2 separate regions of the Homo sapiens genome follow, and region 2 is linked to region 1. The links come from fine-mapping of genetic effects on gene expression. A gene starts in region 1. The other region holds a variant in brackets. All regions are shown on one strand. Distances are between the middles of the regions. Region 1 holds the start of PPP1R36 (protein phosphatase 1 regulatory subunit 36). Region 2 overlaps ZBTB1 (zinc finger and BTB domain containing 1).

Region 1 (4,532 bases):
ATCTAGTGTAACTATGTATGTCTGCTTAGCCAACTCCTTTCCTGACCTCCAGCCCCCATTTGTCCAACAGCCCAAGACGTATTAATGTGAACAAGTCATAGCAACCTGAAACATGGCCAGTTTTGTCATGTTATTTATTTATTTATTTTTGAGATGGAGTCTCTCTCTGTCGCCCAGGCTGGAGCGCAGTGGCTCAATCTTGGCTCACTGCAACCTCTGCTTTCCAGATTCCAGCAATTCTCCTGTCTCAGCCTCCCAAGTAGCTGGGATTACAGGTGCCCGCCATCACGCCCGGCTAATTTTTGTATTTTTATTAGAGATAGGATTTCACCATGTTGGCCAGGCTGGTCTCAAACTCCCGACCTCAGGTGATCTGCCCGCCTCAGCCTCCCAAAGTGCTGGGATTACAGGCTTGAGCCACCACACCCAGCCACCAGTTTTGTCACTTCAATGCTGTATATGGGTGAAGGGCAATCCCAGCCACCTGATCACCCAAGTCAGACACCTAGGAGCCAATCTAAACAACTGCTTTTCCCTCTCCCTTCACATCCAATCCCCACATCCTATCAATCCTATCCAAACATCCTGTCAATCCTCTCTTAAGTATTTCTTAGTCCTTTGCCTTTCTATTTTTACCAACCTGGAGTTAATTCTAACTCTCGCTATTGCTTACTTGTATAATTATCTGTAATCCTACAACTAGTCTTCTAATGGATCACCTGCATCTATTCTTCCTCTGCTTGAATCTAGCAGATTCTTTGAACATGCTCAATAAATATTTGTTGAGTACCTACTGAAGAAGTTCTGTAGCTGGCTCCAGAGACCTGAGGATGAATAAGATAGTTCCTGCCACTGAGGAGCTTACTGTCTAGTTGAGGGAGACAGCGAGTACATGAAAAGGGCTTTAGCATTAGACAAATCTTGGTTCAAACTATCAGTTCTGCTACTTACTGGCTGTATGACTTTGGTTCAGTTGCTTAATCTCCCTGAGCCTTGTTTCTTCATCTATAAAATGAGGACATTAATGTTCACTTTCCACAGTTGTTTTAAGAATTGGAAAAATATGCAAATATCTGGCACACAATCAGTGCACAACAGATAGTGTCTAGTATTAATTTAGCTATACACTTGTAAGAGTCAGTGTCTTTTTTCATAGAGATTAGAATCAGTTTTTTCTAATTTAGTAATTTTACCTTGTGAGATTCACCATCTATTGCAGCAGATATAATATGTTCCCATTAATGTTAACTATATTTCTCTAACTCAAAAAGGCAATTTTATAATTAAAAACATGGACTCTGTAAATCAAACAGACCTACATTTAAATAATCTTAGTCACCTCTGAGCTGTGTGATTGGGCTAAGTCACTTAATTTTCCTCAAGTCGCTGAACCCTTTGAAACCTCAGTTTCTTCATCTGTAAATTGGTTAACATGCAGCTGTTTCAAAGAGTTGGTAAACATTAGCACAGTGTCTGGTCCATGTGAAGCAGCTGGTAAGCGTTCAGAGAAAGGCTGTTCACTGAAATGATTGTTTCCTTCCAGATGGCAAAGGTTCAGTGGGTATTTATTCTCTATACTCTTCTGTTGCTTTTTTTTCCCCCAGGCACATGTAATTTTTATAAAAACTCTAATAAAGTGTTGTTAAATTTTACCTTCTGAATTCAAGAGTTCTGGTTTCATCTTTCCAGTACCACATCCCTAATCGTAATCCCAACTGCTGTAAAACGAAATGATTGCAGCAAAAATAATTAAAAGCTCAATTTACAATCCATATGCCACAATAAACCTTTAACAATAATTCCTACTTACTAACACATCTTTTAAGTAATAAGAAGGAAACAAAAAACAATGGTTCCTACTAGTCCCTCTTTACACTTTCAGTAAGAGTGTAGAATCCTAAAGCGTTAAACTTGAAGCTAGGATTTTATCGCTTTGATTGATTTTAGGTGTGGCTTCAGTAGAACGGCAGGAAGGAGGGAGAGGGAGAAAGGAAGGGAGGAAAGTAGGAAAAGAGGAAAGAAGCAGCGGAGGAAGGGAAGGGCGAAAGATAGGAAGGAAATTGGGACTACATATAGCTCATCATAGCAATCTACCAATTAATTGAAATTCAGACAATAAACTGATACCCAGGACAGCCTCAGCTGTCTGGTTCTGGAGACTTCCGGGCTCCAACACTGAGCCTGCCCTTTACAGGCAGTGGCAAAAAGTTAAGTACACCCTTTTCACCGTGGAAGCTAGCACCCACCAGCCTTTCTATCCAGAGCGGGGCTGCTTCCCCCGCAGTAGGTCTCCCTATTTTGCAACCAACCAATTAGAGGTGGTGAGGTGGGATTTCGTAAATATCTAACTACCTGCGCAGGGAGCCAGAATTCAATTCTGACCATCTGTCAAATACACCAGAGTTTTTTTTTTTTCTAGGCAAATATGGCCAGGTGTCTTTGAGAACCGCCAGCCCGGGGCGAAGGCGACGACCCGCCTCTGGAGGAGGGCGAGGGGCGCGGCGCCGGTTGGGGGCAGCAGGGCCCGCCTTGCGCCCAGCCCGGGTATGGGGGCGACCAAGGCTGCACTTACATCCATCAAGTAAGGGGTCTGCCCACCTAACCGCTTCCTCCTCGCATAAAACTCGGGCACCCGGTACATGGCCTCGCCCTGGAAGCCATACGGCGTCGCCGAGGATACCGCCCGCAGGCGCCTGCACACGGCTGCCCGGGGCGCGGAGCGGGGCGGGGCGTCGCTTCCGTCCTAGGCCGCGCGGGCTGCGGCCGCACCCAGGCTTCTCCAGCGATTTCTAAAGCCCAGCCTGGTGCCCCGTTTCCCAGTCTTAAAAGCCGTGGCGACGTATTGGCCTATCCATTGTAAAGCCGCCCAGGGCATAATTCTTCATGGCATTCCAACCTTGAACTTCATGAAGTTATTCACTTTACTGTTTTAATTGGAGTAACTACATTCAGTCCTATAGGGAAGAAAGATCCATTTCTTCCTAACTTTCATGATTAGCACTATTATTAAGTTCAAATCCAGGATGAACCTAGGTTGATGGGGAGAGCAGGGTTGAGGTGGGGAAGCAGGGTAGCCTCGTGGAAGAGAACATGGGTACGGAAATAAGGTTTTCATAACAGTTGTGCTGCTTAACAAGCTGTGGAATCTAGGACAAGACTATTCTGATCTTTCTTCTGAAAACACCAAATCAGGGGTTATGTGGATTTTTGGAGTGGTGTGTGTAAAGCACCAGTCTTAAGTACTCAAAATTAGTGTTGCTCAAAAACAAAGAAACTTGCTTAGTGTCAATGGGTATTCAATTGATATTTTTACATTTACACTTTTCAAATCATGTGTCTTGTAATTCCTTCTTGCAACGGAGTTGATAATGCTGATTCTGGCTGATTTTTTTCCTCCCAGCTCTAAGTGAGCAATGCTAGATGATGCAACATGATTGGGAATGCCTAGTATATTCTTTTGTATCACCACAGCTTAATTGGTATGAGAGGCTCATAAGTAGTGGATATATACTCCCATTAACTTTTAAGTTATGTCAGTAGTCATCCCACTGCTTCTTCTATTCCCACCCTCCCAGTCTCACTACTTGGTAATACACAATCACTGGCTACAGTGATTAAATAGTAATCATCTAGATTCATGTTCTGCTCACTTGAGTCCATTCTGGCAGCTGTTCAGTTGGTCCAGGTATATGGAAACCCACTTATATACTGGCCGCAGGCAAGGCTTTCTTACTACAAGATGACACGCTTGAAAAGGAGACTATCCCATATGCCAAGAGCTTTTCACCAAGTAGCGAACATAACTTGGGGTGGACAGGACAGGGAAATAATGAGGTAAAGCTCAAGAAAAGATGCAGACAGACCAAGGAATCTGGATGGCATCCAATCACTACATAATCATTACCGGGAAGACCACACTAGTGGTCAGTAAACCTCTTCAGTTCATCCCAATAATGTGTGGAGAAGTGCTGATAGAAAACTTAAGATCTATATATCTTATCACAGAATAAACTTAGGCTGTCTAATGTACAAAACTTAGGTAAAAATAAAAGTTGAGAGCCCAAAACAATAACTACTTAAAAATTAAAGGAGAAGTTATTTCGCATGTGATAGAGGGACATAATATTTAAAGGAAAGTTTCAGTAACTCTGAAGGGACAATCTTATACTTCTCTATCACTTTACCCCAAACAAAAGGAGGAAGAAAAGATTGTTTTTACATCTCTTAATCATTACAGTACTTATTTTAAAAAGTGACCCACCGATTTCCTAAGGTACATTTTTCACCAGTTAGGTTTCTTTTTAAATGACATTAGAAACTCACAACCAAAACTGGAAATATGATTGTCCCTGTAAAGAAGAATAAACACAATTGATGATATTTAGTAGGGATGAAGGTAACTTCTAAATATTTGATAACTCCAAGTGTCCTGTGAGGGAATTTTTTTTTTTCCTAATTAAGAGAAACTTAAGGTCATATAACTATCTAAGAGCATATAATATATAACTAAATTGCTGGTCCCAGATTTTAGG
Region 2 (4,261 bases), 28 kb after region 1:
TCTGGGTTTAAAATTTCACAGGATAACCTTAAAAAAAAAAAAACACATAGAAATAGTGAAGTCATCACCTTATTGATGAAAAACTAAAGTTTAATAGTCATTGAATGGGTAACAACCACTTGTAGTCTACATTTAAAAATTTTAATCATAGCTAAGAAAAACTAAAAACAAATAATTCTATTAAGAAACAACAAAAATGATAAACATTTAATACCTAAATGTAGATACTTAAAATCCTAAACAAAAATATTAAAGTTAAAAGGGCCTTGAAATTTGTTTCTAACAAATCATCTTATATAATCAATTCCTAAATAGCTCATATCCTTTGCTTTGGTGTTTTATCTGCTATCATCTAAACATTAGTACAGTAGAAAATCACTCAGGTTCTTTTCAAATGCTTGGCATTATAATGTGATCTCATATCTTTCCTCAAATTAAATTTTGCTCCACATATTCCACATGTATACAGATGAACATCCATGTGCTGCTCCAACTGTTCATTATTTGGGAATATCTGAAAGCAGACCTGGCATATAGTCTCACCAGCAGATAAATGAGAAATCATATGCCGTACATGGTCATGTTTTCTGAAGTTTCCTTGATCACAAATGGAACAGACATACCTGGCCATGCCTTTGTGCATATCATTGTGCAGTCGCAACTGACGCTCTCTTAAAAACTGCTTTCCACATGTTTGACAAACAAACTGTTTTTCCTTAGTATGAACAGTATAGTGTTCTCTTAAGTGACACCGCTGATAAAATCCTTTTCCACACAGATTACAAAAATGCTTTCGTCTGTGATCTCTTTCATTTTCTTCCATGATGGCACTCTTAAACATATCTTGATCTAAGCAGCTAGACATATGTTCAACCACTAGATTTTCAGTTTCAAAACGCTGGCCACAATTAGGACATCGAAAAGGGCAGGCAGAATGTTTAAATAACTGCTTTTTTTGGATACTGTTTATCTGGTAATGATTGTCCCTAAAATCATCCAGCATTTCAACAAACATATCTCTTATTTCGGACTGCTCATCAGGATTCTCTTCCAAGTCCATTTTCTCCTCAGTATTTCCTAACCCATTCATGGTCAGATCTTGGGGCTCGCCACATCGTTGAGCATGTTCCTGAAGCTGCCTACCCTTTACAAGTATTTGTCCACATTTACCACATGCACAGATATTTTCAATGTGTTTGGCTAAGTAATGAGATGACAGGTCCTCCTCGGTTATTGTAAGTCCACACAGCTCACAAGATGCATTTTCAGCATCCTCTTGTACTGGACTGCTGTTGTTAGGGGGCCTCATATTCTCTAAACCACCTCTTTCATCAGCACTTACTGACATTCGAGGTTTTAGAGTTTTCCTACCACTTTTTTTTATGCTGACATCTTCTTCAACATAGTATCTATAAAATGGCTCTTCAGGTTCATCTTCTAATTCATCATTGTCAGTGGATTCATTACAGTCTTTATCAGTAACTTTAATAATGTTAAAGTCTTTCAGTTCATCTGTAGGAATATCTTCTGGCTCCATCTTAATAATAATCCTTTTCCTCTCAGCAGCTCTGCTTTTCTCTTCGCTTGCTATTTCAGACTCCACTGTGCTACTTTTTCTGCTTCCAGTGGTTGAAGCTGAATCATCAGCAGCCTGGCTTGTGTCTCCTCTGTATTTGTCCGTCTGTGCAGAAAATGTTTTGGAAGAATCTTTTTCACCAAATTCAGCTTTGATGTTACTGTCTTTTCCATCTCTAATATCTACTATTCTATGGTAAGATCTTGTGTTTTGGTATAAATGTCTGTTAGTACAGGTTAGCACATGCTCATCTAATAATTTTTCACAGCTAAAGCCAAATCCACAGCTATCACAGGTAAAACTCCGCCCAAAGCGTCTTGACACACGTTCTTTTGGAGTAGATAATTTGGACACGGAACTTTTTTTACATACATCAAATAGTGGCTCAGGAAAATTACCTAATTGTAAAGACTCTTCATCAGCCTCTCTATTATGTGGTGTATTTACCGTTGAACTTGGCTCTGCACACCACCTGTTGGCTTCATTGCCATTTCGAGCCACAGTATCTTCATACATTCTTACCCCAAATATCATTTTGCTGTTCTGTTTGCTGGAAGCAGAAGAGGAACATTTTGAACTAGAACAATCTGCATCCTGGATGTCTTCTAAACAGTCAGGAACATTGTATAGCTGTAGGTAGTTCATTGCCACTTTAAACTGCTCAAAACTGGAGGGAGCTGTCATAATTTTTCCTAAATACATAAACTGCAAAATGAGATCAAAACATTCTGCACTAATTTTCATGTTGCTGAGATTCAGTTGTGCAGTACTATGCTGATGGTTCATGAAAAACATTCTAAAATAGGAGCTACAGGCAGCTAGAACTGCCTTGTGTGCTTGAAAGTAAATGTCATCAATTGCAATACAGCAGTCACAGAGAAAACCCCATTCTCTTTGGTTGTTTAGCTGCTGAAGGACATAGCTGCTGTGGCTGGGCTTTGCCATCTT[CTG/G]TTAATTAGAGACCTATGTAAAACAAAAATATTAAAGTCAAACAAGATATAGAAAAGCACTTGACAAAATTAACTTTTATCATGATTTGTGACTTGCATGACTGCTATTACAATCAAGAAATTAAGAGCTTTCCATTCTAATAAAACTCAATAATATATACTTGAATCATTTTTTAAATTTGAAGATGAAGACATCCAGCCATTTATTCAGGCTTTTCATATTGAACAAAGGCATCAAAAGCAAAAGACAGTTTTAGTTTCATTACAACTCTTGGGGGGAACATGTACACTAAATTTGAACAGAAAAAAAGACATTAATTTAAAAATACTTGAAGGAGGCCGAGTGCAGTGGCTCACGCCTGTAATCCTAACACTTTGGGAGACCGAGGCAGGAGGATTGCTTGAGCTCGGGAGTTTGAGACCAGCCTGGGCAATAGTGTGAGACCTCTTCTCTACAAAAAAGTTTAAAAAATTAACCAGGTGTGGTGGCATCACCTGTAGTCCCAGTTACTTGGGAGGCTAAAGTGGGTGGATCACTTGAGCCCGACAGGTAGAGGCTGTAGTGAGTTGCGTCACGCCACTGCACTCCAGTCTGGATGACAGAGCAAGACTCTGTCTCAAAAGAAAAAAAAAAAAAGAAAACAACTCTTGAAGGATATGAGTAATGAAAGTAAATAAAACAGCAACTTAAACTGAAAGTTAACAATTAGATTGTAAAGTATGAAAAACTTATTAAATGATTAATACTAAGGAGCTATTGCTCATTTTTTAAGTGTGAGAAAGGTATTTTGATTGTGTTAAAAAGAATCCTTATCTTTTGGATATATATACTTTAGTATTTACAGATGAAATGATACATCTGAGATATGCTTAAAAATAAATGGGGTGGGTGTGGGGAGCAATAGATGATACAAGATTGGCCATGTGTTGTTAAAATAATCTATTTTAAAAACCCTATTAAGCCTGGGCAACATAGCAAGATCTCGCCTTAAAAACAAAACAAAACAAAACAAAAAAACATTAGCCAGGCATGATGATGCACCTGCAGTCCCAACTACTCGGGAGACTGATGCAGGAGGATGGCTTGAGCCCAGGATTTTGAGGTTGTGGTGAGCCATGATCACGCCACTGTACTCTAGCTTGTGTGACAGAGTGAGACTCTATCCCAAAAATAAAAATTTAAAAAAACCTTATTAGGGCTGGGTGTGGTGGCTCACACCTGTAATCCCAGCACTTTGGGAGGCCGAGGCGGGCGGATCACGAGGTCAGGAGATCGAAACCATCCTGGCTAACACAGTGAAACCTTGTCTCTACTAAAAATACAAAAAAAATTAGCCAGGCGTGGTGGTGGGCGCCTGTATTCCCAGCTACTCAGGAGGCTGAGGCGGGAGACTGGCATGAACCTGGGAGGCGGAGCTTGCAGTGAGCCGAGATCGCACCACTGCACTCCAGCCTGGGCGACAGAGCGAGACTCCGTTTCAAAACAACAACAACAACAACAACAACAACAACCTTATTAGATTATATAGAAATGGCACCAAACAAGTTTGATCAGTGCCTTTGTCTTTTCTTGAATTATCAAAGAAGCAATAATTCTATAGAGTTAGAATGTGTCTCATGTTGCTCAACATGCATTTCAGGGTATAAAGAAGCAGTGGGTTTATTTGAGAAGGTATTTTATTTATCCTTAGAGTGTAAAGTTTTCTTCCTTTTTTTTTTTTTGAGGCAGGGTCTC

The links. PIP is the estimated chance that this variant, and not a neighbour inherited with it, causes the effect.
Region 2: its variant is the best candidate, but not a certain one, in a credible set for the expression of PPP1R36 in whole blood (TOPMed, PIP 0.53).

What each region holds. Positions count from the first base shown.
Region 1 is chr14:64,548,107-64,552,638 of GRCh38, reverse strand. It overlaps PPP1R36 (protein phosphatase 1 regulatory subunit 36), which reads right to left and starts at 2,678. Exons shown (of 12, transcript NM_172365.3): 1 at 2,573-2,678; 2 at 1,654-1,718. The coding sequence starts at 2,641. RefSeq lists a silencer at 2,523-2,812.
Region 2 is chr14:64,519,765-64,524,025 of GRCh38, reverse strand. It overlaps ZBTB1 (zinc finger and BTB domain containing 1), which reads right to left. Exons shown (of 2, transcript NM_001123329.2): 2 at 1-2,539. The coding sequence starts at 2,521. The coding sequence ends at 380. All of the region lies in intron 2 of HSPA2-AS1 (HSPA2 and ZBTB1 antisense RNA 1), which reads left to right. Among named protein-coding and RNA genes, the nearest start is that of ZBTB1, 17 kb to the right of the region's middle. The variant CTG/G (reference allele first, on the strand shown) is at 2,525.